Regions from separate parts of the Homo sapiens genome. Here all the other regions are linked to region 3. The links come from fine-mapping of genetic effects on gene expression. A gene starts in region 3. Each other region holds a variant in brackets. All regions are shown on one strand. Distances are between the middles of the regions. Region 1 has its middle 14 kb from the start of MAPK1. Region 2 overlaps TOP3B (DNA topoisomerase III beta). Region 3 holds the start of PPM1F-AS1 (PPM1F antisense RNA 1). Region 4 overlaps IGLL5 (immunoglobulin lambda like polypeptide 5).

Evidence for each region. PIP is the estimated chance that this variant, and not a neighbour inherited with it, causes the effect.
Region 1: its variant is the best candidate, but not a certain one, in a credible set for the expression of PPM1F-AS1 in cerebellar hemisphere (GTEx, PIP 0.74).
Region 2: its variant is the best candidate, but not a certain one, in a credible set for the expression of PPM1F-AS1 in cerebellar hemisphere (GTEx, PIP 0.68).
Region 4: its variant is the best candidate, but not a certain one, in a credible set for the expression of PPM1F-AS1 in ovary (GTEx, PIP 0.77).

What each region holds. Positions count from the first base shown.
Region 1 is chr22:21,877,202-21,885,416 of GRCh38, reverse strand. It overlaps the pseudogene MPPE1P2. Among named protein-coding and RNA genes, the nearest start is that of MAPK1, 14 kb to the right of the region's middle. RefSeq lists an enhancer at 1,833-2,594. The variant C/T (reference allele first, on the strand shown) is at 4,325.
Region 2 is chr22:21,954,160-21,962,374 of GRCh38, reverse strand. It overlaps TOP3B (DNA topoisomerase III beta), which reads left to right. Exons shown (of 18, transcript NM_001282112.2): 14 at 1,926-2,054; 15 at 2,639-2,788; 16 at 3,143-3,243; 17 at 3,682-3,883; 18 at 4,780-5,350. The coding sequence ends at 5,261. Among named protein-coding and RNA genes, the nearest start is that of PPM1F, 5.4 kb to the right of the region's middle. The variant T/G (reference allele first, on the strand shown) is at 2,918.
Region 3 is chr22:21,933,858-21,942,072 of GRCh38, reverse strand. It overlaps PPM1F-AS1 (PPM1F antisense RNA 1), which reads right to left and starts at 3,836. Exons shown (of 2, transcript NR_147620.1): 1 at 2,460-3,836; 2 at 1-971. PPM1F (protein phosphatase, Mg2+/Mn2+ dependent 1F) reads left to right here. Exons shown (of 8, transcript NM_014634.4): 3 at 2,393-2,541; 4 at 7,847-8,049. RefSeq lists enhancers at 1,798-2,604, 2,605-3,412, 3,413-4,219 and a silencer at 3,702-3,861.
Region 4 is chr22:22,892,969-22,897,968 of GRCh38, reverse strand. It overlaps IGLL5 (immunoglobulin lambda like polypeptide 5), which reads right to left. Exons shown (of 3, transcript NM_001178126.2): 2 at 4,151-4,269; 3 at 1,858-2,594. The coding sequence ends at 2,275. It also overlaps IGL, IGLJ1 and IGLC1. Among named protein-coding and RNA genes, the nearest start is that of IGLL5, 7.7 kb to the right of the region's middle. The variant T/C (reference allele first, on the strand shown) is at 2,289.

The sequences.
Region 1 (8,215 bases), 57 kb after region 3:
CCACTGGCTGGACAAATTACGAAGGGAATGGCAGATGGAGAGAGCCTTCCAGACAGCTCTGTGGTTGCTGCAGCCGGAAGTCGTCTTCATCCTGGGGGATATCTTTGATGAAGGGAACTGGAGCACCCCTGAGCTGGTGTCTTGCTCTGTCACCAAGGCTGGAGTGCAGTGGCGTGATCTCAGCTTACTACAACCTCTGCCTCCCTGGTTCAAGTGATTCTCCTGCCTCAGCCTCCTCGAGTAGTTGGGATTACAGGCACCCGCCACCACACCCAGCTAATTTTTGTATTTTTAGTAGAGACAGGTTTCATCATGTTGGCCAGGCTGGTCTCAAACTCCTGACTTCAAGTGATCCGCCTGCTTCAGCCTCCCAAAGTGCTGGGATTATAGGCGTGAGGCACCGCGCCTAGCCATCTAACTTTAAATGTTATTTGTTAAAGTGGAATCTTTGTAAATGTATTCAAGGACTCTATCCAGCATATTTCCTTAAATTTTGCCAGATTTACAACATTTAGGATAAAGTTGGTTACTATCTAGAATAGAGGTTTTTTTTGTTTTTTTTCCCTACCCTAGGGTGTTTGTACAATTGATATTTTTAGCTTTATAAAAATAAGAGCTCCCTCTCCCTCTCCCTCTCCCCTCTTTCCACGGTCTCCCTCTGATGCCGAGCCGAAGCTGGACTGTACTGCTGCCATCTCGGCTCACTGCAACCTCCCTGCCTGATTCTCCTGCCTCAGCCTACCGAGTGCCTGCGATTGCAGGCGCGCGCCGCCAGGCCTGACTGGTTTTCGTATTTTTTGGGTGGAGACGGGGTTTCGCTGTGTTGGCCGGGCTGGTCTCCAGCTCTTAACCGCGAGTGATCCGCCAGCCTCGGCCTCCCGAGGTGCCGGGATTGCAGACGGAGTCTCGTTCACTCAGTGCTCAATGGTGCCCAGGCTGGAGTGCAGTGGCGTGATCTCGGCTCGCTACAACATCCACCTCCCAGCAGCCTGCCTTGGCCTCCCAAAGTGCCGAGATTGCAGCCTCTGCCCGGCCGCCACCCCGTCTGGGAAGTGAGGAGCGTCTCTGCCTGGCCGCCCATCGTCTGGGATATGAGGAGCCCCTCTGCCTGGCTGCCCAGTCTGGAAAGTGAGGAGCGTCTCTGCCCAGCCACCATCCCATCTAGGAAGTGAGGAGTGCCTCTTCCCGGCCGCCATCTCATCTAGGAAGTGAGGAGCGTCTCTGCCCGGCCGTCCATCGTCTGAGATGTGGGGAGCGCCTCTGCCCTGTCGCCCCGTCCAGGATGTGAGGAGCGTCTCTGCCCGGCCGCCCGGTCTGAGAAGTGAGGAGACCCTCTGCCTGGCAACCGCCCTGTCTGAGAAGTGAGGAGCCCCTCCGCCCAGCAGCCGTCCCGTCTGAGAAGTGAGGAGCCCCTCCGCCCGGCAGCCACCCCGTCTGGGAAGTGAGGAGCGTCTCCGCCCGGCAGCCACCCCGTCCGGGAGGGAGGTGGGGGGGTCAGCCCCCCGCCTGGCCAGCCGCCCCATCCGGGAGGTGAGGGGCGCCTCTGCCCGGCCGCCCCTACTGGGAAGTGAGGAGCCCCTCTGCCTGGCCAGCTGCCCCATCCGGGAGGGAGGTGGGGGGGTCAGCCCCCCGCCTGGCCAGCCGCCCCGTCCGGGAGGGAGGGAGGGGGTCAGCCCCCCACCCGGCCAGCCGCCCCGTCCGGGAGGTGAGGGGCGCCTCTGCCCGGCCGCCCCTACTGGGAAGTGAGGAGCCCCTCTGCCCGGCCAGCCGCCCCGTCCGGGAGGGAGGTGGGGGGGTCAGCCCCCCGCCCGGCCAGCCGCCCCGTCCGGGAGGGAGGTGGGGGGGTCAGCCCCCCGCCCGGCCAGCCGCCCCGTCCGGGAGGTGAGGGGCGCCTCTGCCCGGCCGCCCCTACTGGGAAGTGAGGAGCCCCTCTGCCCGGCCACCACCCCGTCTGAGAGGTGTACCCAACAGCCCATTGAGAACGGGCCATGATGACAATGGCAGTTTTGTGGAATAGAAAGGGGGGAAAGGTGGGGAAAAGATTGAGAAATCGGATGGTTGCCATGTCTGTGTAGAAAGAGGTAGACATGGGAGACTTTTCATTTTGTTCTGTACTAAGAAAAATTCTTCTGCCTTGGGATCCTGTTGATCTGTGACCTTACCCCCAACCCTGTGCTCTCTGAAACATGTGCTGTGTCCACTCAGGGTTAAATGGATTAAGGGCGGTGCAAGATGTGCTTTGTTAAACAGACGCTTGAAAGCAGCATGCTCGTTAAGAGTCATCACCACTCCCTAATCTCAAGTACCCAGGGACACAAACACTGCGGAAGGCCGCGGGGTCCTCTGCCTAGGAAAACCAGAGACCTTTGTTCACTTGTTTATCTGCTGACCTTCCCTCCACTATTGTCCTGTGACCCTGCCAAATCCCCCTCTGCGAGAAACACCCAAGAATGATCAATAAAAAAAAAAAAAAATTAGCTGGACATGGTGTTACATGCCTATAGTCCTAGCTACTAGGGAGGCTGAGGTGAGAGAATCCCTTGAGCTTAGGAGGTCAAGGCTGAAGTGAGCCATGATCATGCCACTGCACTCCAGCTTGGGCAACAGAGTGAGACTCTGCCTCAAAAAAAACACAAACCAAAAACCAAAAGACTAATAGAACTACTACTGTGTACATTTTAAAAGTCAGTTTTACTGTAAGTTAATTCATTTTTTTAAATTAAGAACAGTTCTCGACCGGGCACGGTGGCTCACGCCTGTAATCCCAATACTTGGGAGGCTGAGGCAGGTGGATCACCTGAGGTCAGGAGTTCAAGAACAGCCTGGCCAACATGGCGAAACCCTGACTCTACTAAAAGTACAAAAATTAGCCAGACATGGTGACAGGCACCTGTAATCCCAGCTACTCAGGAGGCTGAGGCAGGATAATTGCTTGAACCTGGGAGGCAGAGGTTGCAGTGAGCTGAGATCACGCCATTGCACTCCAGCCTGGGTGACAGTGCAAGACTCCCTCTCAAAAAAAACAAAAAACAAAAAACAAAAAAAACTAGAAAATACTATAAGTAGAAATGGTGATTAGATAGGGTGGGCATGCAACCTAGCATGCCAGTGAAGCATGAGGGGAAGACTGCTGCTGCTGGGGGGCTTCTTACTCCTGAGGAGGCTCCCAGAGGGACAGTCCCTTTCTGCCTTTGAATAGTGTGGTACCACGTGCTGTCTGGATCCACTACAGCCACCTCCCGACTTGCTTGAGGATAATGCCAACACAGAGAGGAGGGCAGTGCCTCAAAAAGAGCAGAGAAGAGGAGTCAGACCCCTACCTGTGTTAGATGAGAAAGCATGTGCCTTTACTGTTTGTACCAACTGAGTTTGGCCAGAACCAAAGTTGTGTCCTAGTTGAGCACCTAGGACAGAATATTGAAGGAGGTGCTCACTCTCGGATGCTGATGCTACACTTGCCAACCCTGAGAGTGAGCATCTCCTTAAATGTACACCCCAGGTGCCTCACTCAGCTCACCCTGGTCCTGTTCGTGTTTGACTTAGGGCTTTTTGGACTTACAGCTGAAAGATTCTAACTGGTAAGGGGAGGACACACTAGAATTTAAGGAATGGGCAGATAAGAGGAACCCCGAAAAGGAGATAAAAGGCAGCTGCTCTTATTTGGGCCAAAGCAATGTTATATAATATCAATGCCAGGGGCCACCCCAGCCTAATATTAAAGGAATTGTCTTCCAAGTTTGTAGTAGTAGTTGTATTATTTTCATGATTTTCCAAAGAGTGTTACTGCATCTCTCTTTTTTTTTTCTCTCTCTCTCTCCCTCCCTCCCTCTCTCTCTCTCTTTTGAGACGGAGTCTCGCTCTGTCACCCAGGCTGGAGTACAGTGGCACGACCTCGGCTCATTGCATGCTCCGCCTCCTGGGTTCATGCCATTCTCCTGCCTCAGCCTCCTAAGTAGCTGGGACTACAGGCGCCCGCCACCACGCCCGGCTAATGTTTTTGTATTTTAAGTAGAGACAAGGTTTCACCATGTTAGCCAGGATGGTCTTGATCTCCTGACCTCGTGATCCGCCCACCTTGGCCTCCCAAAGTGCTGTGGTTACTGGCATGAGCCACCATGCCCAGCCTCTCTCTTTTCTTTTCTTTCTTTTCTCTTCTCCTCTTTGCTTTTCTCTATCTCTCCTTCTTTCTTCTTCTTCTTTTTTTTTTTTTTTAAAGTGTTGCTCTGTTGCCGAGGCTGGAGTGCAGTGGCATGATCTCAGCTCACTGCAACCTCTGCCTCCCAGGTGCAGGCAATTCTCCCTGCCTCAGCCTCCCATGTAGCTG[C/T]GATTACAGGTGCCTGCCACCACGCCCAGCTAATTTTTAGTGTTTTTAGTAGGGACAGCGTTTTGCCATGTTGGTCAGGCTGGTCTCAAACTCCTGACCTCAGGTGATCTGCCTGCCTCTGCCTCCCAAAGTGCTGGGATTACAGGTGTGAACCACTGCACCCAGCCTTTTTTTTTTTTTTCTTTTCTTTTCTTTTTATGAGACAGTGTCTCGGCTGGGAACAGTGACTCACACCTATAATCCCAGCACTTTGGGAGACCAAGGCAGGATTGCTTGAGCCTAGGAGTTTGAGACCAGCCTGGGCAACATACCAAGATCTTGTCTCTACAAACAATAAAAAAATGAGCTGGGCATGGTGGCACACACCTGTAGTCCCAGCTACTTGGGAGACTGAGGTAGGAGGATGGCTTGAGCCCAGGAGGTTGAGGATGCAGTGAGCCTCAATCATAGCTCACTGTAACTTGGAACTCCCAGGCTCCAGGGATCCTCCACCCTCAGCCTCCCGAGCAGCTGGGACTATAGGCATGCACCACCACAGTCAGCTAATTTTTTTAAAAAATTTTTTCTGTTTTTTTTCTTTTTGAGATGGTGTCTCTCTCTGTTGCCAGGCTGGAGTGCAGTGGCATGATCTTGGCTCACTGCAACCTCCGCCTCCTGGTTTCAAGCAATTCTGCCTCAGCCTCCTGAATAGCTGGGACTACAGGCGCACGCCACTATGCCCAGCTAATTTTTGTATTTAGAGTAGAGACGGGGTTTTGCCATGTTGGCCAGGATGGTCTCGATCTCTTGACCTCGTGATCCGCCCACCACAGCCTCCCAAAGTGCTGGGATTACAGGCATTAGTCACCGTGCCCGGCCTATTTTTTGAATTTTTTTAGAGACAGGGTCTCACTTTGTTGCCCAGGCTGGTCTCAAACTCCTGGCCTCAGGCAATTTTCTCACCTCTGCTTCCTAAAGGGCTGAGATTGCGGGTGTTAGCCATCATGCTCCTGGCCTGTTACTGTATTATTTCCTTTCTGGTTGAAACCTTTTTTTTTTTTTTGAGAGACAGAGTCTCACTCGCCCAAGATGGAGTGCAACGGCCCAATTTCGGCTCACTGCAACCTTTGCCTCCTGGGCTCAAGTGATTCTCCTGCCTCAGCCTTCCAAGTAGCTGGGATTACAGGCACCTGCCACCACGCCTGGCTAATTTGGGTTTCACCATGTTGGCCAGGCTGGTCTTGAACTGCTGACCTCAAGTGATCCACCTGCCTCAGCCTCCCAAAGTGCTGGGATTATAGGTGCTAGCCACTGCACCTGGCTTCCCGACTGAAACCTTTTTTTTTTTTTAAATGGAGTCTCACTCGTCGCCCAGGCTGGAGAGCAATGACGCGATTTCGGCTCACTGCAACCTCTGCCTCCCAGGTTCAAGTGATTCTCCTCGCTCAGCCTCCTCCAAGTAGCTGGGATTACAGGCATGCACCACCACGCCCAGCTAATTTTTGTATTTTTAGTAGAGACAGGGTTTCACCATGTTGGCCAGGCTGGTCTCCAAACTCCTGACTTCAGTTGATCCGCCCTCCTCGGCCTCCCAAAGTGCTGGGATTACAGGTGTAAGCCACCGCGTCCGGCCATCTGACTGAAATCTTAGTAGAATGTCTGCTAATGTTCTAATAAAGCACTTAGTAGGATGTTTGTTAATTTTAAACTTCGTATGATTGTTCATTTGTTAAACTGTGCTGTGATCAGAGGATTTGACCTCAACAATTTTTGCTTATTTGGATTTATTAAAAAATTTTGTGGGCCAGGTGTGGTAGCTCATGCCTGTAATCCCAGCACTTTGGGAGGCCGAGGTGGGCAGATCACCTGAGGGCTGGAGTTGGAGACCAGCCTGGCAAACATGGTGAAACCCAGTCTCTACTAAAAATACAAAACTTAGGGCGTGGCAGTGGGTGCCTGTGATCACAGCTACTTGGGAAGCTGAGGCAGGAGAATTGCTTGAACCAGGGAGATGGAGGTTGCAGTGAGCTGAGACCGTGCCACTGCACTCCAGCCTGGGCAACAGAGCGAAACTACATCTCAAAAAAAAAAAAAAACAAACAAACAAATTTTGTGGTCCAGTAAAGGATAAGTTGTTGTCAATGTTCCAGAGATACTGGGAGTGGTGGTGATGTATTTTATGTAGGTGGAGGACACAGCGTAAGTTTTTATACCTTACTAATTCTGCTGTTTAGCTCATCTTTATTTTTGTTTATATGTCACAGTCTGATAATGGTATATCATATTTTACTATAATTATAGTTCACTGCAGCCTCAAACTCCTGAGCTCAAGCCATCCTTCCATGTCAGTCTCCCAAGTAGATAGGACTGCAGATGCATGCCACCACACGTGACTAATTTTTAAAACTTTTTTTTTTTAGAGAGGGGCTTCGCTACATTGCCCAGGATGATCTGTAACTCCTGGCCTCAAGAAATCCTCCTGCTTTGGCCTCCCAAAACACTGGGATTACAGGTGTGAGCCTCTGAGCCCAGCCTATAACTGTGTTTCTATTAGCTGTGTTCCTATAGACTTTTTTTTTTTTTTTTTGAGACGGAGTCTCGCTCTGTCGCCCAGGCCGGACTGCGGACTGCAGTGGCGCAATCTCGGCTCACTGCAAGCTCCGCTTCCCGGGTTCACGCCATTCTCCTGCCTCAGCCTCCCGAGTAGCTGGGACTACAGGCGCCCGCCACCGCGCCCGGCTAATTTTTTGTATTTTTTTAGTAGAGACGGGGTTTCACCTTGTTAGCCAGGATGGTCTCGATCTACTGACCTCATGATCCACCCGCCTCGGCCTCCCAAAGTGCTGGGATTACAGGCGTGAGCCACCGCGCCCGGCCGACTTTTTTTTTTTTTTAAAGAGACAAGATCTTGTTATGTTGCCCAGGCTGGAATGCAGTGCATATTCACAAGCATGATCATATGGCACTACAGCTTCAAACTTCCAGTCTTAATAGTCTTAAGTGATCCTCCAGCCTCTGTCTCCTGAGTAGCTGGGACGATAGGTATGTGCCACCACACCCGGCTCTGCTTCTTGTTTTGTGTTGTTATGTTATTTGGTGCCTTTAGTTTCACAATGCCTTTTTTTTTTTTTGAGACAGGATTTTGCTCTGTTGGCCAGGCTGGAGTGCAGTGATGTGATCATAGCTTACCGCAGCCTCTAACTCCTGAGCTTAAGGGATTCTCCTGCCTCAGCCTCCTGGATAGCTGGAACTACAAGTGTGTACCACCACACTCAGTTAATTTTTTAATTTTTATTTTTGTAGAGACAGAGTCTTGCTATGTTGACCTGGCTGGTCTTGAACTCCTGGCCTCAAGTAATCCTCCCACCTCAGCCTCTCAAAGCAGTGGGATTACAGGTGTGAGCCACCATGTCCAGTAACAAAGCCTTTTTATATTATATATATTATTAGTATACATACTACTAATATGTATATATATGCATATACATACTATATATATACACACACATAAATAGGCATATCTTTTTAAACAACAGTATATATTCAGTTTGCTTTTTGATGTGATCTGAAGTTTTAATATTTTAAATAGTAATTTTAGAAGTTTACATTTTTACTTGTTTACATTTGGCTTGTTATACGTAATCTAACCTTTGCTCATCTAATTTTCTAATTTTCTGGTGTTTTGATATTCTTGTTTATAATTTCTTGCCATTTCTTTTTTTAATTTACAAATGTGAGGAAAGTATCTAGTATACTTCCTAAGACTCTTGATTTTTGCTGTATGAATTACGTTGTTCCTTTCGTCTCATGTAATGAATTATAAGGTATACATAAGGCTTTTTACACTGAAAAATTATATGAACTTATATATTTTTTTAAATAACTTTTATCCTCATGTTACATAAAACAAAG
Region 2 (8,215 bases), 20 kb before region 3:
CGAGTCTACTCACAAAGCTGCCCCGCCAGCCCTGTGTGCCCAGCCCAGCACCCCTCCATGGGCTGGTATCTGGAAACTGGTGACCCAGTGTGTGGCCAGCCAGGCAGGTCCACAGCGGGCATCCCCTCCTGAGGCCTCCATTCAGGACCTGGCCTTCCCTGTGAAGGCCCAGATGTGCCCTCGTGCACTGTGGGGTGTGCACACACCGACTAACGCCCACAAGGCTGAAGATTGGCCCAGATGCCAGGTGACTCATAGAAATCATATTGGCAGTCCCCTGAGTCCACACAGCCAGCCTGGGCTGTCCTGAAATCAGGTGACAGGGAAATGAGATCTCACAGGAGCTGCTTCCCTGGGAGAGAACAGAAATGCCTGTCCCAGGCACAGGGCTCCCCAAAGGGTGACCAGGAAGTTTCCACGCAAAAATGGGCAGCCCAGGGAGTTTATCAAAGCAAAAGTGTAGTCACCAGTGCACACTCCTCACAGGAGTGGTGGCCTCACAAGTCCCCAGGCCTGGAGCTGTGAGATGTCTCACATGTTGGGGGCCAGCCTCACTGCCGGAGCCTTCTCCCCAGGTGGCACTCGCGCCGCTGGGCACTGCCTGTTCCCTGGGGCACTACCCCTGGCTGACAGGCTCTGGAGACCTGTGGGATGTCACAGCCACTGTGTCCAGGCTCTGCTCCAGCAGTGGTCATATAGGTGGACTCTCAGGGAGTGTCTCTTCCCAGGCTGGGGTCCTGGTGACCATGGCGATCTTGGCAGGAGAGCAGAGCTCTGGGCTTGCTCCTCTCAGGGGTCCAGGGCACCTGCCAGGGTCCTGAAATAGCCCTCAGCCCACTGTGGAGTGTGGGCTCTGCTCCCCCGTGTCCTCTGCCCTCTCGCATTGATGGGACACTGGCTCCTGGCAGCCCTATGCTAGCCAGTGAGCCAGACCCAATCACCAATACAAGTTTGTGACAGTGAAGAGGGCTCTGGTGTTACCTTCTGAACAGGAGAGTGGTCAGGGTGGCCCTGTGACTGAGCCCCCAGGAGTGTGTCAAAAGGGCCTGACCAGAGCCGCCACAGAGGAGCCCACACCACGCGTCATGGCGCCCGGCAGACTCGGGGTGGTAGTGGCACACGCCACCCACAGCCTGCCACACCGGGTGCAGAGCTGGCCTCGTGCCAAGAGCCATGGGCCCTCGGCAGGCTCCTTAGCCCCCAGAGGCCAGTTTCTTCCCATGTGAGATTCTCTCCGAGCTACTTTGGGAAGGTGTGTGTCACCTGTCCATGCTGGTGAGCATGCAGGGAGCCCCAGCCTCCTTTCTGCCCCTCTGACTGGCACCCGCCATAGTCAAAACGCCTCAGCCTCCGCTGCGCCCCTCTGCCAGGAAACTTCCTCTGGGTGGGAGAGTGGAATCCTGGGGACTGGGAGCCTCCCCTGGGGATCGTGACGGGCCTTGCAGAGAGGGAGGAGGTGGGAGACAGGAAGTGGACAGAATTGTCCAGGTTTAGGGGAGGGCAGCTCTGCAGTGAGCTTGTAAGCACCTCCGTGTTCTGGTGGAGTGGGGCTCTGGCTCCGGGAGCAGGTGGGTGCCACAGGACCCAGGCAGGAGAAGCCATAGAAGTCACATTTTCCAGGCGCAGAATAAGCACTGTGACCTTGGAGAGTTCCTTAACCTCCGAGCCTGTTGTCTCTGCCATAAAGCAGGAGTAGGCGCCCTGTACAGGGAGGGCTGCCCTTGTGTTCTCAAGGCAGAACATGAAATGCATGCAGTTGGTGCCCAGCACAGTGCAGGGGGAGCTCAGGGCACAGCCCTCCCTCCTGTGACCGGGAGCAGTGAGAGGGCCTGAGCACCAGGGGCCCCGTGACAGGTGATACAGCACATGGTTCAGTGGGGCATGTCCAAGGCAGGCCAGGAACCCTGGGGCCTTGTACATTGCAGGCACGGATGCCAGCATCCCTGTGCATATCAACAACATCTGCCAGCGCAACTATGTCACGGTGGAGAGCGGGCGCCGGCTCAAGCCCACCAACCTCGGCATCGTCCTGGTGCACGGCTACTATAAGATTGGTGAGTTCCTCAGTCCTGCCCCCAGGGCCCACCGAGGCTCCCTGGCTTCTCCCTGGATGTTGGCTCTGCTGCCCGCTCCAGACAGGCCCCTGCCCTACAGTGATCCCCCAGCCCCACACACACTCCCTCAACACCCGCTGAAGGGGTGCTGCCCCAGGACCCCCAGGACCTGCCCAGAGCAGGAGCTCAGTGTGTTTGAAGGCTGAACAGATGTGTGAGGGAACCAAAAAGGGAGGCGAAGTTGCCTCAGCCCTGTTCCCTGGAGGTTCCCCAGGGGCCAAGGGGAGAGGGAGGAGCACAAAACTGGCCCAAGGGCGGCCTGGAGCTCATGTGTGATGTGGTTCTAGCCACAGGACATCCCTGGCCACTCTGCCTGACATTTCCAGGTGGGAAATCAGGAAAGGTCTGGGGTCATAAGAGCCAGCCTGGTACCATCTGAGGCTGTGGACTGGTGGGTAGGGCAGAGGCCAGGAGGACGGGCCAGAGCGGGAGGGGTGAACAGGGCAGTATCCCTGCCTGGGAAGGGGTGGCATGGCCCTGGGTGCGAGTGCTCAGGGCAATATCTGCCCCCTGCCCACTTGCAGATGCAGAGCTGGTGCTCCCCACCATCCGCAGTGCAGTGGAGAAGCAGCTGAACCTGATCGCCCAGGGCAAGGCCGACTACCGCCAGGTCCTGGGCCACACCCTGGACGTGTTCAAGAGGAAGTTCCACTACTTTGTCGACTCCATTGCTGGTAGAGTCTGCCTCTGGCCTGCCCCTCACCAGAGGGGTGTCTCTCTGTCAGCAAGGCCAGTACCTGGGGACCCAGGTCCCCACGTGGGACCAGCTCCCAGATCTGGGCTTCAGGCCTCCGTAGGCCAGG[T/G]CAGTGACACCTCCTGGCTGGGTTGAAAGAGCAGGTGCATTAACACCACACATGGCCAGGAACACGTGCCTCTGACGCACAGGGCTGCTGCCCTGCCGTGCTGCCAGGACAGTAGAAACCACCGCCTATAGGGACCCTTTCACACTCAGACCCTTGACCACGTGTTGCGGAGCCTTTTGCTGGGGACTGGGAGGGAGATGACTCCTGCACTCTGCTTGCCCGCAGGCATGGATGAGTTGATGGAGGTGTCTTTCTCGCCCCTGGCGGCCACAGGCAAGCCCCTCTCACGCTGTGGGAAGTGCCACCGCTTCATGAAGTACATCCAGGTAGGTGCAGGGAACACTAGCTCAGGCAAGCTGCCTCACCCCTGTAGGCCTCAGCTTTATCGTTGATCAGCAGGAATCATGTTCTTTGTCCTGGTTGTCACAAAAGAATGATGGAACATAAAGAGGCCTTGCCAAAAAATACCCAGTGTCCCCACGTCCCCTAGAATACACAGCCATTAGGCCACGCAAACACACATGGTGCATTTTTCCCTAACACCATGCCACTTGCCATCATGGGCATTAATGTACACACAGAGATTTTAGAACTGCCTTTTCTGCACGCGTGGAGCAAGAGCCAGAGACTCATGCTCCTTGCCTGGCAGTGTGTCACAGGTTCTGCATGACAGATTACATACTTTGTATTATGAGAGGAGTGGGGGTGGGTGCCAAGTCGGTGGCCCCAGTGACCCTCACGCCACCTGCCTGGCATTGCCGCAGGCCAAGCCAAGCCGCCTGCACTGCTCCCACTGCGATGAGACCTACACGCTCCCCCAGAACGGCACCATCAAGCTCTACAAGGAGCTCCGCTGCCCTCTGGATGACTTCGAGCTGGTCCTGTGGTCATCAGGCTCTCGGGGCAAGAGCTACCCGCTGTGCCCCTACTGCTACAACCACCCACCCTTCCGAGACATGAAGAAAGGTGAGTGCAGCCACTCCCTCCTGTCCACAGGTAGCTGCAGTCTCTTTTCAGTGCCAACCCCTGCCTTGCACCAGGCTGGACTCTGAGGGGACCCCTCACCCTGGCCTTTCCTGCACTCATTGGCACTGAGACGAGAGACCCTGGATGTAGCTGGGGCACTGCTTAGGCCTCAGCCAGTGGTGCCACCCTCTCTCTGTGTCAGAATCGAGCAGGCAACCCTAGTCCACCCTCAGGACCTGGGCACAGGTGTGCAGTGCTCCCTCTGGAGCTGAGTGAGCAAGAGGATGCAGCAGTCGGGGGACCCACCCGGTGAGCGGGCACCCCCAGTCAGCGTCCACCACCGTCCTCCATCCTCATCCTCGTCCTCATTACTGGAGGAGGGAGCGCATGTCCAGGCAGGCAGGACAGAGCACCGAGCCAGACCAGGAATCAGCGGGAGTGAGGCATCTGCCCACATTCACCGTGTGCTCTGCAGAAAGCTCCCTCAGGCCTCAGTCTGCACCCAGGCTGCCCCGGGAGTGAGACCCCATCCCTGCCCTCCTGCTGCCGCCAGAGTAGCTGACAGGGTGGTTCCATGTGGCCCAGTGACATGAGGGTCATGTGGCATTACCAGTAACAAGCTGGCAGCAAAGCAAAGGGGGGATGGAGTCAGCTGAAACCCACTGGGATGGTGCCAGCGAGGGGCCTTGAAAGTTGAGGAGGTTTCAGGTAAGCAGAAAACAGGGGTAATGGCAGCCAGGAGCCGAAACATGAGCAAGGCTGTCCCCAAGAGCAAGGCCAAGAAGAGTTCCTTCTGCTGGGACGAGGGATCCAGGAGCTTGAGGCATTGGGAGCAGGCAGCAGAGGGCAGGTGGGCACAGTGGGCGTGCCTTTACAGGGCTCCCTTCTCCCGCCAGGCATGGGCTGCAACGAGTGTACGCACCCCTCCTGCCAGCACTCGCTGAGCATGCTGGGCATCGGCCAGTGCGTGGAATGTGAGAGCGGGGTGCTGGTGCTGGACCCCACCTCGGGCCCCAAGTGGAAGGTGGCCTGCAACAAGTGCAACGTGGTAGCGCACTGCTTCGAGAACGCCCACCGCGTGCGGGTGTCCGCCGACACCTGCAGTGTCTGTGAGGCCGCCTTGCTTGATGTGGACTTCAACAAGGCCAAGTCCCCACTCCCGGGCGATGAGACGCAGCACATGGGCTGCGTCTTTTGTGACCCCGTCTTCCAGGAGCTGGTGGAGCTGAAGCATGCGGCCTCCTGCCACCCCATGCACCGCGGTGGACCAGGGAGAAGGCAGGGTCGAGGGCGGGGCCGGGCCAGGAGGCCCCCTGGGAAGCCCAACCCCAGACGGCCCAAGGACAAGATGTCAGCCCTGGCCGCCTACTTTGTATGATGACCCTGTCCTCCCTCACCCAGGCTGCAGTGCCATGCAGACACCTCATGGCACTTCAAACTATTAAAATGCATTTTATCTTATCCAGAGCTGGGGCCCCTTTGCTGGTGCAGCGATGTCAGAGCGTTACCGTGTCCCTGGGCACCTGTGGGGCCCTCTCTCCCTCTCCGAAACCCAATACGTCTCCCTTCAGCCTGCATACACGTGCCCAGAGTGCTCCCTGCTATCCCTACACCCTGGCAGTACGGGCAGGGATGCCCCAACCCTGAAGCCCTGGGGAATAGACCCAGTTTGCACTCACACCCCATCTCAATCCGTGCTGCTGATGGTAGCTGTGTGCACAAGCAGTGGCCCTGATGCCTTAAGGAAGGCGGCCTTGACAGCTGTGGCTCCGGCAGGAGAGGAGTCTAGTGGAGCAGGTGGGGCTGGGAGACCCCCTCCCCGGATCTGGCTTATGAATCCCCTTGGTCTTCGCTGCAGCCCCCTGCTCAGGGCCACGCTCTTGACCCCACACTTCTCCGTCCCCTGCTCCCTGCTCCCATCTCTGAGAAGCCCTGTACATGGTGCCCGTGTGCGTCTGGCAGCTTCCCAGGACCTGCTGCAATTCCCATTCTCACAACAAGCCCTTATGGTCTTAGAGGCAGCTGGGTGCCCCATGGAACCCATTCACATGCCAGGTTTAGAAAATACCCTGTAGGCCAGACTGCCGTGTGGTGCCAGGTGCTGGTGGCAGCTGCCCTCTGACCTCAGTGCCTTCTTGTGCTCCCCTCCCCAGCCACCCGAGGAGAGACACCTGTGCGGGATCCACTGTGTGTTGGAAACTCCCTCCACACTCCGCCCGTGCCTCATTGAGTGATGACGGGAGCTCAGCAAAACAGCTTTCCAGACTGTTCAGTGGGACCTTTCTTTGAGGGGCAGGTCAGGAATGTTTCGGACTCAGACCCGCCCCCGCCCCAACTCAGTAGTAGATTCCCAGGCTGCACCAGGACTTATATGAGAGCTCCTGTAAGGAAACCCAGAGCCCACCAAGCATACCCCCCCTGGACCCCCTTCCTGGAGGCCCTCACAGGTTAACACGGGGGTTCCCTGGAACACAGTTTGGAGAGCTACTCGAAGCTGAATGAAAATACAGAGACATGGGGAACCACATAGAGGGTCCTGGGATGTGTCTCAGAAGCACAGGCTTCAGGAAGGAGGGGGTGCTCTCAGAGCTTCTGCCCCCTCCCACCCACTCTGGTCCCATTCTGGGGCCCTAGCAAGGCCACACCTGTTAGGTCCCCAGTGCGGGGCTGTGACTCTGCTCTTCCACCCACAGGGCCCAGTGGACCTGGAGCCTTCTCCGCAGAAGGTTTCAAGACCTCCAGGACCCTTAGGTTATAGGGCTCATTCAGGCTTGGAGGAGCAGAGACGGTTCCTAGGTCTTAAACCCAGACCACCCAGTCCTTCCTTACTATGCTTCTGCACTGCGCTTTCAGCCACAGGCAGGGCTAATCACAAAGTGTTCCTTTATTTTCCTCTGCAGTTGTCCCTTGTGTGTGACCCTCCTTCAAGGCCCTTGGCTTCCGCAGCTTGATTCTGCACTCCGAGTCCATTCACCTTCTCCCATCCAATAGCATCCAACCCCGCTGCTACTGCTGCCAACCTGGCCTTGGGAGCAATGAGGACAAGGAAGGGACAAGACCCCTTTTAGGCCAGAACTGCCTTCAGATCAGCCACGCTCCATGGGACTGTACCTCTGCCCTGGAGGCTGGAGAGGTCAGTGGCTGCAGACTGTCTCAAGGAGCCCCTGGCCCTGCCCACCTAGCCAGGGGTGCAGCCTTGCCAGAGAAGCAGAGAAGCGTCTGTGGCTGGGTGGGTGATATTGAAAGATTCCTTTCACCAGGGTGGAAGCCAGGATCTGAGGCGTGATGGAATGTGGACAGTGAGGCAGTGACAGCGCCACAAGGCAGGAGTCATCTCCAGGCACGTCCTTGGCCTGGAGCCCATAGGGACAAGCTCCTGGTGGTGCCTCACTTTGCCATCCTCTCTAAGCCGCAGACCTTGAATGGAATCAGTGCTCAAGAGTCTAATTGGGCCCACTCTGAGGATGCCTGCGGGAATATCAGCTTTTACCGCACCACACTGCACTTTACAGTGTGGGAGGGCCTGCCCCACGCACCACCTCACCTGTACTGCGGTTCTCAAACTTCACCCTACAGCCATTCTGTTGTAGGTGATCTCAGGGGCAGTTTGAGAAACAGTGGCTCAGGGTCTCACAGCAGCCCTCTGAGATAGGTTGGTTGCTATTGTCCCGATTTTTTCTCATCAAGAAACTGAGGCTCAGGTGAGCTAAGGAATGTGCCCAGGGCCACTGTTTATAAGAAGTAGCCTCAAGCCTTGCTCATGGTTACTGCCCTGACAGGGATCTAGGAAAGAGTGAGCAGGAGAATGGGATGAGGCAGGACCCTCCGCCCCAGCCCTGCTTTCTCTGCCCAGACACCTCCTGCCTTGCAGACCCAACCCCACCCCAGATGGTTTCCTTTCCAGTCACCCAGCTGCTAGTTCTCCAGGTTCCTGGTCTCACTCCAGGTTCCTCCTGTTAGAGAAGCATCCCAGAGACATTCATTCCTGGCAAGGACACAGGCCTGCGGACCTGAAGGTCAGGTGGGCAGAGCCACATAAGATCTGGTGCCCCATCCTCCATTTAAAAAATTATACTTTCCAACGGCATTGGTATAAAGGTGAATATATTAATATCATATATTAAAACATTTTCTTTGACATAAAGGTTTCTTTCTTCTGCCTTTAAAATAAAATATTTTGGCCAGGTGTAATGGTTCACACCTATAATCCCAGCACTTGGGAAGGCTGAGGCAGGAGGATCACTTGAGCCCAAGAGTTCAAGACCAGCCTGGGCAACATAGAGACCCTGTCTCTACAAATTTTTTTTAATCAGCTGGGCGTGGTGGTGCTTG
Region 3 (8,215 bases):
CACAGGGGTGAATGTGTGTTGTCCAGCTTCCAGGGCCCCCACTGGGTGAGAAGGCAGATTCCAGGGGTCAAAATGCATGTTAGAGGCCATAGGGCCACTGAGGGAGCGACCCCTTCTGCCCAGAAAAGCCAGGGATGGCTCAGAATTTTAGACACTCCTCCCCACTGCCCTCCTTCTCAGCCACAGATGGCTTCAGTGTTTCTTTCCCTGATCTGCCCCGTGGCTCTCTTCTGCCCTGCCTACCTGCTAAAAGACGCTAACCCTCCTGTCGGTTTGCTTTCAGCCTGCTGCGACCTCCCTTTCTACCCACTACGCCTCCTCAACTGCTCAGCTCTGTTCTATGACATTGAAAGCAGTGACCCAATCTCACTTCTTAAAACATTTCCTTCGTGGCACCCAGAAGGCCACTCCTGGAGTCATCCCCACTTTGCTAGCCATGCTCTGGCCCTGTGGGACTCAGCCCCCTATCCTCATTCATTCCGCAGCTCCATCTCCTGCCCAGACCATGTTCTTGCAGGCCCTCAGGCCTCTTGACCTCCGTGGAACACAAGTCGCTGTGGAAACAGAGCCCATTGCCCATCCCCTGCCTGACTCTTCCATCCCCATCAGGGTAATTAACTGTACCACGAGCCTTCTAGTTGCTCAGAATAGAAACTTCAACACTGTCCCTGCCCCTCCATTTATACTGCCCGACTCTGTCTGCTCCTGTTTGTCACCATGGCCCTGCCCAGCCCAGGTCTTAGACTCTCTCCTTTAGACAGTCGTCCCCTTCTTGCCAGCCCACCCTCCACACCAGGGTCAGAGAGGCCTAAAAGCCCCATCTGATCATGCCATGTCCCTCTTCAAACAGACCAAAGGCGGCCAGGTGTGGCGGCTCACGCCATTATCCCAGGGCTTTGGGAGGCTGAGATGGGAGGATCACTTGAGGGCAGGAGTTCAAGACCAGCCTGGACAACATAGCAAAACCCCACCTGTACAAAAAAATTTACAGATTAGCTGGACATGGTGATGTCTGTAGCCCTAACTACTGCCTGTAGCCCTAACTACTCTGGAGTCTGAGGTGAGAGGATCTCTTGAGCCCAGGGGTTTGAGGCTGCAGCGAGCCATGATTGCACAGCTGTGCTCCAGCCTGGGAGACAGAGCAAGACCCTGTCTCTAAAAATAAATAAATAAAACACAGACCAATGGCAGTGCTTCCCTGTTAGCATAAAGCTTGGCCTGCCCTGTTCCCACAGCCCCTCACCCCGGCAGCTCCTATGGCCCCATCCGCCCAGGGACCTTGTGGACCACGCACAGCCACTTCCTCTGCTGAGTGTGCCCATGGGTCCCACACCCCAGGATCAGCTTCCTGGAGCTGCTGTACAAATGACCACAGACCCAGCAGCTTAAACAACAGAAGTGTGCTTCATGGTGCTGGAGGCTGTCATCTGAGATCAGGATATTGACAGAACTGGCTCCTTCTGGTGGTTTGTGGGCAACCCTTGGCATTCCCTGGCTTGTAGGTTCATCCCCCAGGTCTCTGCCTCATGTTCCCCTGGCATTCTCTCTGTGTGTGTGTGTCTGTGTCCAAATTCCTCCCCCAACCTGTTTTTTTTTTTTGGAGACAGCATCTTGCTCTGTCGCCTAGGCTGGAGTGCAGTGGCACAATCTTGGCTCACTGCAACCTCCACCTCCCAGGTTCAAGCAATTCTTCTGCCTCAGCCTCCTGAGTAGCTGGAACTACAGGCATGCGCCACCACACCCGGCTAATTTTTGTATTTTTAGTAGAGATGAGGTTTTACCATGTTGGCCAGGCTGGTCTCAAACTCCTGACCTCGTGATCTACCTGCCTTGGCCTCCCAAAGTACTGGGATTACAGATGTGAGCCACCGCACCCGGCCCAAATTCCCTTTTTCATAGAGACATCAGTCATTGGAGTAGGGGCCCAGCCTGCTCCAGCATGACGTCATCTTAACTAATTCCATCTGTAATGACCCTGTTTCCAAATGAGCTCCATTCTGAGGTACTGGGGGTTAGGGCCTCAGTGTATGAATTTAGGGGGGACACAATTCAACCCAGAACACTCCCCACCCCCCAGGGTCCCCAGCTGGCATGGGTGATTCCTCTGCCCTCCTGTGGCCAGGAGCCATCATCAGCATGGATGTCAGGCAGTTTACTTGCCCATCAACAGCCCCCTCCCAACTAGCCGCAGGCTCAAGTATGGTCCAGCTCCCCACCAGATGGTTGTGCGTCTGCCTTTGCTGTCCTGTGACCTTCCTGTCCCAGCTCCCTGAGGACAGGGGCCGCCCTGCTGGCCGTGACCCCTCAGCATGTGGGCTGACAGTTGGGGAAGGGGGGCTAGGTGTGGTCTCCTGCTGGGGGCTGCCCCTCACTTCCCCCTCCTCATCCCTAGGAAGGCCCCGCCACCACTTGCTGCTGCTCTGGCCCACGAAGCAGTTTCACAGCTGCTACAGACAGACCTTTCCGAATTCAGGAAGTTGCCCAGGGAGGAAGAAGAAGAGGAGGAGGACGATGACGAGGAGGAAAAGGCCCCTGTGACCTGTGAGTTCTGTTTCTTCTGAGGTGGCCCCAGGGCTGCTTAGCAGGCAACAAAGGGTGACGACATTGTGGGAAGCCCATTGATTGGGGTCCCTAAGGGTGCTGGGGCCCTCGCTCACAACGGCAGCAGAATCAAGGAGCAGAGAAGGCTTGCGGCCCCAGTGAGGTGGAGGGTGGCGGTCACAGCCCTCCACAGGTCATATAGTTCCCAGTCAGCCCACGAGGCAGGGGTGGGTGGTGCAGACACCCTCCTGTGTCCTGTCTGACTGAAGTTCCAGAACAGCCCAGGAAATTAAAGATGCTTATCCCGTTTCACAGAGGATCTCACAGGTGATCGATCTCTGGTCATGCAGCCAGGTTCAAGTGCCCTCAGTGTTGTAACTCAGTTAACATGCGCCCGGGCAGGCGAAGTCAGGGTTGGCCAGGTGGCATGCCAGCAGGTCTCGGGGCAGCAGCGTGGTCCCCTCAACGCTCGGGCCCCCTGCCTCAGCTGCCCCCAAGTCAGGATTCTGTTGGGTGGAGACGCTCTACGGTGTCCATGAGCCCCATGGTTAGATGCTGGTGGAAGCTTGTCTGTCAGCCTGCTCCTGGGACAGCCATAAGCATGGTGTGGCCAGGGGAACCCAGAAATGGAGAGGGCTGCAGATCCATTTCACAGAGGATATAATCATTAAAAAGCAGGGCTTTTATTTCATGTGACTTTCTTTCATTCTCCTAGTAATTTCATTTTATTATATTTCGCCAAAGTGTTGGTTGATGTTAGACCAGAAATACAGGGCGTAAGAATCGCAGGCTGCAGCAGGGGTGCCACAAGGGGGTAGCAACGTCCCACCCAGCTGAATAGTTGTCCCTGGACAGGCCAGCAGGCAGCAGAGTTGCAGTGGATTTTCCCTTCCTTGCCATTTCCTGTCGGCCATTTCCTTTCCCTTCCTTTGCCATTTCCTTTCCTTTCCCTGTTGTTCTAAATTCGGCATTACTAGTGCATGCGTGCATCCGGGGAAAAGGAACAAGGTGGGAGAAGAGAGAGAAAGCGAATACCCGAGGCCGCCAGCATCAGTGGGTGCCCGCGCTCTCCTCCTCGCTCTCGTCCTCTGCCCTCCGCCCTGGCTCCCTGCCCGCATTCCCTGGGAGCGCAGCCTTGCCTTAGCCTGGGAGACAGCTGTCCACAGTGACAGGCGGCCATTGTTCTCGGCCGAGCCAGCAGGCTTCCGGCCGGTGGCAGCTGCTGCTCCTCCGCTCTGCGGCCCCACCAAGGGGGCGCCGCCACCGCCCAGGCCCTCCCCGCCTGATGGGTCTCTGTCCGTCCACGCGGGAGACAGCGCCACCTGCCGGTGAGAAGGAGCGTTGCTGCGCCGGCACCAGCCCAGTCCTACGCTCGGGGCTCCTGCAGGCCTGGGAAGGAGGGAGGGCGCAGCTAGAAGGAAGTCTCGCCTGCCCTTGCTTCCCCGTCTGTCAGAGTGCCTCGCATGCAGGCCTGCCTAGCGGCCTTGATCATGCTCTCCCTGTCACGGAAGTAGAATGTAGTCAAGTTTTTGGACTCCAAGCCATTCTTACAAAATTGCGTCAGAGTGGGGATTGTATTATAAGAATTGCCACTGAAGAGCAGCGAGTGGCTGAAACCTCTGTGTGGCTGCCAGTCAGCCCCTCCCCGGTGACTGGATCAGCGAAGAATCCAGAAGCGAGGTTGCGGGGCTGCAGCCCTTGGCATGGGGAGTCCGTGGGCTGGGCAGCACTGCCTCAGCCGCTGGCCTTTCCTGAGCAGAGTCTAGGCTAAGCGGCTGTTGGAAATAGCAGTAGCACCCGGGGCGAGACCGTGAGCCACAGCGGCGGCCGGAGTCTCCCCCAGCCCGAGCTCAGGCCTGGTAAGCACCAGGAGCCCACAGTTTCCAGAGGGAGTGAGGAGGAGTCCATGGCATTTAGGGGCAGTTTTCTGGGCACAGTGGCCCTCAGACGAGAGGAAGAGGAGGCAGCGCTACAAGGACTGGCAGGACGAGGGGGGTTTCCTGCTGGTTTGCAGGGGATCCACTGGCCAAACTTGTGTGGAGCTGCCTTCCCTGAGCTGGGCCTGCCTGAATGAGTTCTCAGGCCCCTCCTTCACCCATAGCCTTGCCAGTCCCCAGTTCTTGCCAAATGCTTGAATAGGCCCCTGTGTTGGCCATGGCGGCAGCAGCTGGCTCTGGATGCCCCCACCCCTGCCTTGATGCATGGATTCCCAAGAACCTGTCTTTCTGTGACCTCCTGCGTGCATAAGCCCTCGCGTTCATGGTTCTTCCTCGGTGGCCCCCTCTGGCCTCAGCCCTTCTCCTTTTCTTCCACAGCCTCCGCCTTTAGGCAGGAGCTCTTTCCTCCTCTCAGTTCCCCATGTCCTTTGGGTGTGGCCTGTGACACTCAACTCCTGCCCTCGGCTGACTGGCCCTGATTCACCATGCTTGCCACATGCACCTGGGCTGGCAGGAGTTCCAGGAGAGTTTGTGCATTGAAGTGACATGAGTCCCTGAAGCCAGAGCCCCCATGGTTTCCTTTGGGCCTGTTACTGGTTGATCTTTTCTTGAGAAGCCAAGCTTAGGTAGGATTTGGGTATTTTTTCTTTTCAAATGAGTATTGTGGCTTATATTATTTGTTGCTACATAACAAATTGCCCCAAATGTAGTGGCTTAAAACAACAGACATTTATTCTCCCAGTTTCTGTGGGTCTGGAATCTGGGAGCAGCTTAGCTGGTTCTGGTCCAGGGTCTCTTACTGGGTTGTGGTGACATGGTTGCTGGCTGGGCTGGAGGGCCTGCTTCCACGGTGGTTTCAACACACGGCCACTGACAGGAGGCCCTGGTCCCGTCCCATGTGGACTCTCCGTGGCGCTGCTTGAGCATCCTCACAGCTCAGATTGAGCGATGAGAGGGAGGGAGGAAGAGAGTGAGAATACACAAGGCGGGAGGCGCAGGGCCTCTTTGTTTCGTAACACCTGAAGCACACGCAGTCACTGCCACTCTTCATCAGAAGCAGCCAGCTCCCACACTCAGCAGTGGGAAGTGAGCTCCACCTCGCAAAAGGGGAAGTCAAAGAATTTGTGGACATGCTTTAAAGCCACTGTCACACGAGACTAACACTTGTAATGAAAAACTGGGGAAGTATTAAGAAAGTGTACTTCAGGAAAAAGCTGTCCGTGGAACTGCCACGTGCAGGCCCACTCTGACACCTTGGTTGTGTGCTGTTCCCGCCTTTTTTTTTTTCTGGCCCTGGTGGTTTTTCATGGACTTGTAGTTAAACTGCATATGTAATTTTCCTTCTTTTTTCACTTAGTATCATGACAGAAGCATTTTACATGCTTATAAACTCTATTAAAATCCATTTTTTAGTTTTCTGTTTTAAGAGACCAGGTCTCCCTCTGTCACCCAGACTGGAATGCAGTGGTGTAATCGGAGATCGCCGTAACCTCGACGTCCTTGGCTCAAGGGATCCTCCTGCCCCAGCCTCCCGAATAGCTGGGAGTAGATATACCACCACACACAGCTAATTTTTTTTGGTTTGGTGTTGTTCATTTGCGACTGAGTTTCGCTCTGTTGTCCAGGCTGGAGTGTAGTGGCTCAATCTTGGCTCACTGCAACCTCTGCCTCCCGGATTCAAGCAATTTTCCTGCCTCAGCCTCCCAAGTAGCTGGGACTACATGTGCATGCCAGCACGCCCAGCTAATTTTTGTATTTTTAGTAGAGACGGGGTTTCACTTTGTTGGTCAGGGTGGTCTCGAACTCCGGACCTCAAGTGATCTGCCTGCCTTTACCTCTCAAAGCGCGGGACTACAGGCATGAGCCATGGCGCCCAGCCTGTTTGTTTTTAAGAGACAAGGTCTCTTTATGTTATCCAGGCTGGTCTTGAACTCCTGACCTCAAGCAGTCCTCCCACCTCAGCCTCTCAAAGTGCTGGGATTACAGGCATGAGCCACTATGCCTGGGCTAGTTTTTTTTAATTAAACTTTTTGTTTTGAGATAATCATAGCTGCACATGCAGTTGTAATAAATAATACAAAGAGATTCCATGTATACTTTACCCAGTTTCCTCCAATGGTAACATTTTGCAAAACTATAATAAAATATCACCACCAGGATCCTAACATGGTCAAAATACAGAGCAGTTCCATCACCAGGATCCCTCCTGTCACCCTTTTAAGGCCACCCTTATACCCCCACCCCTACAGACCCCATCCCTAACCACTGGCAACTACTAATCTTCTCGGCTTCTACCATTTTATTATTTCAAGAACACATATAAATGGAAGCATATGATGTGTAACTTTAGGGGACTGGTTTAATTCTCTGGAGATTAGCCCAGGTTGTTTGATGCATCAGGAGTTCATTCTTTGCCATTCTTGAGTGGTATTCAAAGGTATGGGTCGACCACGGTTTGTTTAACCATTTCCACGTTGAAGGACATCTAGGCTGACTCCAGATTTTGGCTGTTCCAGATAAAGCTGCTATGAACATTTGTGTTCATGTGTTCAAGCTTTTATGTGAACAGCCTTCATTGTTCTGGGATAAGTCCACAGGAGTGCCACGGTGGGGTCGTATGGGAGTTGCATATTTCGTTATGAAAATCATATTTAATAGCAGCTTAATTCTTCATCAAGAGACTAGATCTTTTTTTTTTTTTTTTTTTTTTGAGACAGAGTCTTGCTCTGTCGCCCAGACTGGAGCATAATGGCATGATCTCGGCTCACTGCAACCTCCGCCTCCCAGGTTCAAGCGATTCTCCTGCCTCAGCCTCCCGAGTAGCTGGGATTACAGGCGCCCGCCACCATGCCTGGCTAATTTGTGTATTTTTAGTAGAGACGGGGTTTCACCATGTTGGCTAGGCTGGTCTCGAACTCCTGACCTCGGGTGATCCGCCCACCTCGGCCTCCCAAAGTGCTGGGATTACAGGCGTGAGCCACTGCGCCTGGCCGAGACTAGATCATAATTTAAGTATTATTCCTTTGTCATTGGATATATAGTATTTCTAATTAATGGGCAATTATAAGTGATTCTGTACTTTGTCTTTAAAATTATTTTTGTGTTTCTGATGATTTCTTCAGGGTGGGTTCCCATGAGTAGAGTTGCTCCATGGTGGGATGGGAGACTTCAAGGGGCAAGTTGCCAAACTAGACATTTCTAATTCTGGTAACAGGCTGCCATGTGCGCGTTATTGAGTTGATGTGCTCACAATGCCCCGGGAGGTGATGGGGGCTTTGCAGGCCCCTGTGGGAGCTGTCAGGGAGCCAGCGAGGCCTCAGCTGGCTTGGTTGGCACTTCCCTGACAATCCCTCCATTGTGCCCATCAGTGCTGGATGCCCAAAGCCTGGCACAGAGTTTCTTTAACCGCCTTTGGGAAGTCGCCGGCCAGTGGCAGAAGCAGGTGCCATTGGCTGCCCGGGCCTCACAGCGGCAGTGGCTGGTCTCCATCCACGCCATCCGGAACACTCGCCGCAAGATGGAGGACCGGCACGTGTCCCTCCCTTCCTTCAACCAGCTCTTCGGCTTGTCTGTGAGTGCTCCCGTCCAGACCCTGGGGACAGCTTCGGAGGACCGGGGCGAGGGTGGGGGCCCCCCAGGTACCGAGAAGAGCTGCCCACCAAGGCTGAGACAGGAGAGACACCCGTCAGCCCCTGTACTTGCCCAGCAAGAGACTAAGAAGGGCAACAGTGTGAGTC
Region 4 (5,000 bases), 960 kb before region 3:
TATTAGGGAATTAGTGATAATTTCTATTTAGGTTTGGTAATAATATTGCAGTTACTTTTAAGCCCATATCTTTCCAGCATAGAAATGGGATATTTACAGCTGAAAAGATGTGATGTCTGGTATTGTGTAATGGAGGGGTTATTCTGCTATGGGTGGGTCAGTAATGTCTGTGAATTGCTTATTGGGGGGGCTGGGTGATGGGAACTTGGGGGCATTATTATTTCTCTGTCTCCTTATGTATGTGTTCAAAGTTTTCCATAATGGAAACTTATAACACAGTCAAAGATTAGGCAGCTGCTGGGGATGGCCTTGTGCCCAGCAGGACTATGGATCTGGCCCTTGGTCATCTCAGTTTTCCCCTCCATGAAATGGGCTCAGACAGGTGCTGTGGCAACAGAACCCTCAAGCCTCCTTCTAATGAGAGGCTGGGATTTGGATCAGGGGTGGCTGTGATCAAGCTCTAAGGGGCTCTTTCTTTGCCTCATTGTGACTGCAGAGATTCCTGTCTTTGCAGGCTCTGTCCCTGGCCTGTTGGGATCACCCAGCAGCTCTGGTGGAGGCAGCTGCTATGTCTCTGATGTGCTGGAGGCAGAGACAGGGGGTCTGAGAGTACCCAGGCACTGAGGACTCTCCAAGACAGCTGGGGTCTCCACACCCAGGAGGCTGACATCATCTGCTGTCAGAGACACTGGAATGAGTGTCTCTGAGATGAGGCAGCAGGTGTACATGGGATGGGGTGGGGAGGCTGCGCCACCATGAGCTACGGAGGGAGAGGGTGCTCTGCGGGCAGGAGGGTTTGTGGGATCTGACTCCTAGTGGAGGCCAGGACTTGCCTGGAGCCATCAGCCCACATTCACTCAGCTCTTATTCAGTCTGACCCAGCCCTGAAGCTCATCCTGAATTCAACTCTGATTAGCCTCCCCCAGGCAATCAATAGATGCAGAGTTTGAGCTTGGATTTGTGACTTTTCTCATTTTCCCAATTTCCCCACATCCTCCTGCTCCTGCAGACTGACCATCATCAAGCTCCAGCCACAAACCAATCAGAAATTAACTCTACCTGGGCCTGACTTAGTGGTCCACACCCTTCATGCTTGACATCCAGCCCCACGCTAGTGTTAACTTTGAGCCTGATCCCCAACCCACAGCCATGTGATCATATACCCGTAACATCATGTGCATCAACCTCACCCCATATTCCACAAACTAGTTCCAGGAAACGCTGGTATCTTTCAGAGTGTTTTGGGTCTTCTAAAGGTGAAGAAGGAGATCAACATGCTTTTGGATATGCTGTGGCTCATCATATTAAACTGGTTCCCTAGTGCAGGACTTGTCAGTATGTTTACTTAGCCAATGTCCATTGTACAAGTCTTAGAAAGACACTTGCATGTTTCCTTTCCCAATGTTTTTACAAGTTCCCAGTGGCAGCACAGTTATTTATCCCTCACCCAGTAAACACTCTCCTGACTGGTTCCTCGTATGCAATGGGGAATTTCACCTTCTGTTCCTGCTGAGACCGTGGCCTTGAGTCAAGGGTGTCCTTTTTCCATTATTTCTGCCTCTAGCCCTCATCTGGTCTCCGGGGACCCCCTTCATTTCTCCTGAATCTCCCCACAGGGCGCCAGCAAACCTCTCACTGGGCCCCTGTCCCTTCCCAGGTGGGCAAGGACTGCAGGACAATTTTGTGCCTTGGATTGCAGTTCCCACTGGCACAGGGAGCTCACCCGGTTCCCTGGCAGGTTGGGTGGGGTGTGGGATGACGGAGACATGGGATCTCACCTGGAACTGCCCCCTGTCCCTGAGCAGTGACCCTTCAGCCCAGACACATGACCAGACAGAGACTGCACATTAGAAATGCTGCGTTTTACATGATCAGGTATTTATTGAGAAGTAAAATTTAGGAGGGTGTGGGACTGGTCTGAACTGATGCCAGACTGGTAGCTCAGGGGTACAGTGGAGAGTTGGAGAAGGGGTGACTGGGAGAGGAAGGACCCTCTGGGGAGATGACTCAGGGAGGCTGTGAGCCTCCTCCCTTGGGTGATTTTCACACTGGGTGCAGAATTCCCTGTACCCCACACTGAGAACCCCGGGGAGGCTAGCAATTTATGTGAGAAAAAAAATGAGATAAAACAAGATTTCTGGTTGTCAATGAGGATATTTATTGGGGTTTCATGAGTGCAGGGAGAAGGGCTGGATGACTTGGGATGGGGAGAGAGACCCCTCCCCTGGGATCCTGCAGCTCCAGGCTCCCGTGGGTGGGGTTAGAGTTGGGAACCTATGAACATTCTG[T/C]AGGGGCCACTGTCTTCTCCACGGTGCTCCCTTCATGCGTGACCTGGCAGCTGTAGCTTCTGTGGGACTTCCACTGCTCGGGCGTCAGGCTCAGGTAGCTGCTGGCCGCGTACTTGTTGTTGCTCTGTTTGGAGGGTTTGGTGGTCTCCACTCCCGCCTTGACGGGGCTGCCATCTGCCTTCCAGGCCACTGTCACAGCTCCCGGGTAGAAGTCACTGATCAGACACACTAGTGTGGCCTTGTTGGCTTGGAGCTCCTCAGAGGAGGGCGGGAACAGAGTGACAGTGGGGTTGGCCTTGGGCTGACCTGTGTGGACAGGGAAGGGGGTGAGAGAGGGCAGACAGAATACCGGGGTGTTGTGGAGCCCCTCTCTCTGTCTAAAGTCTCTGGGAGGGTTCACAGTGTGGCCATCCGGTCCACCCGGGGTTCTCTCCTCTTCTTTCCCCATCCTTTCCACTCATGCCCTGTGGAGAGCAGACAGCTCTGTGCCTTCCTAGGAGCCCTCCCAAGTCACCTTTCACAGGTGTCCTGGCCCAGCCCCTCTCCTCTACAGCCTCAATTTCTCCATATACCCAGGGCAGGCTGTGTTCCTTCTTCTCTGATCTCTGGAGTCTGAGTTTAGAATCTGGCCTTGACCCCTGGATCCCTCATTTCCATCCCTATACCCCCCTCCATCACCCACTTTATTCTTCCAGGACCTAGAGCCTCCTCCGTGAACTGTGGGTCCCCTGCTCATCCTGTAGGACTGTCCTGGCAGGCAGTGTGTGGGGAGACCCAAGCCTGCTTTGAACTGGAGCTTCCTATCCCTCACAGGCACCGGGCTCTGCCCCAGCCCAGCCCACTTGGCTCTCCTGGCAAGGAGTGGGCTCCACCTAGACAAGCCTCAGGGCTCCTCTGAGGCTCTGAGATGTTTCCTGTCTCCACAAGCCCGACCACAGAACCCTTCACCTCAGCTGTTCCTGGGGCTGCTCCCACAGACTATGAGACTCAGCAGCCCCCAGGCCCACCCCAGCAGCCTGTGATGACCCCAAACTTCACCTGGTAGCCATGGAGTTCTCTGCACCCCTCATTCACTCCCCTCTGGTCATTTCCTGAGTCTAACATGCCCTTTGAGGAAGGCAGGAGGCCGATCCGTGAACAGAGAGACACTGGGCCCCAGAGGTGACGGGGCTCCAGGGACAGACACATCTCTGCCCTAAGAGACTGTCTCCTTTCTGGTGACTGTCCTGGGAGGGTTGGATTCTGGCACCTCACCCAGTCTCACCCGTCCCTCTGTGTCCCCATGTCCTCATGACCCAGCACAGGCCACAGAGCTGCAGCCTAGACCCAGAGCCCTCTCTGTGCCCTCCATTGGTCTCCCCTTGGGGTGACCTCTGTGTCACCAGGCCGTGTGGCCCTCCCAGGCTGGATTGGCATCCAGTCCTCAGCCTAGACCCTCAGCTGTTCTTGGGGCTGCTCCCCTAGACTATGAGACTCAGCAGCTCCCAGGCCCACCCCAGCAGCCTCTGTCCTTGACCCCAGGAGTCACTGGGCAATGTCCCTAAGGACACTGCAGGGCCCCTCATCAGAACCAGCCTCTGTCCCTCACTCAGACATCTGCCCTGGAAGAGAGGAGGAGCCCTGACCCTGCCCAATCCCAGCTCAGGCCCCGGGACCAGGCTGCATCCGGCTGCTCCCACTGTGGAGGCCCTTCCTGCCGGTTACCCGGAGACTAATGCACCTCCTCCAGGCCCCATGGAGAAAGGTAAGGGTCAGTGCTTAAGGCTGGGAGGACAGAGGGGAGGAAGCCCCAGAGAGAGAAAACAGATTTTCCAGGGACAGCAGAGGGTGAGACAGGCTGGGAAAGGTTGAGAGCCACTTACCTAGGACGGTGACCTTGGTCCCAGTTCCGAAGACATAACACAGTGACTGAGGCTCAGACCAAAACCCCCGGGGCCAGCACCTGGGGTCTGCTCTCTGGGGGCTGGGCTGGAGCAGGAGCCTGCTGGGCATGACGGGCACAGGGTTGCAGTGGGCGGGGCTGGGACCTAGACATGAGGCAGGGGGGTGGCCAGCCCCCTAGAGGTGTCCCTGTGCCTGTCTGCTGTCCAAGGCAAGTGCCACACACAGCCTTGGAGTTACCCCAGTGTGTGTCTTTCCTCTCTGAGGCTGTCGGTGCTGATGACAACACTGGGACCCATAGGTCCCAGCAACTCCCTGAGTGACACATCCCCTCCTGTGCAGTGTGGCAGAGGAGTGCTGAGTTGGCTTGGACCTGTCCAACCTCGTCTGGCCTCATTTAAAGGGCCTCTGAGTCCCCCACACAAGTGTCCCCAGTGAAGCCAGGCTGGCTTTCTCCCTGGATTGAGAGCACTGGGTCATTCCTGACTCAAGTGGAGATTCCTCTGCTTTCTACCCATGGAGACGCGGTTCAGTCCCACTTAGTGCATGAAGCTTTTTCTGATCTCTGAGATCATTCTGTCTACCCATCCATCCAGTTGTCCATCCAGCTATTCATCTGTTCATCTGTTTGTCCATCAATCTATCATCCTTCCATCCATCCGTCCATCCATGCATCTGTCCACTCATTCATCCGACAACAGCTCCCAAGCACCCATCTGTGTCAGGTACTGTTTTTATGCTGGGACATGGCAGGATCCCCTGGCTCTCAGCCTCATCTCTCCCTCAAATCTCTCTGGTTAAGGCCAACAGTCCTTTGCCCCAGTTCAGTCT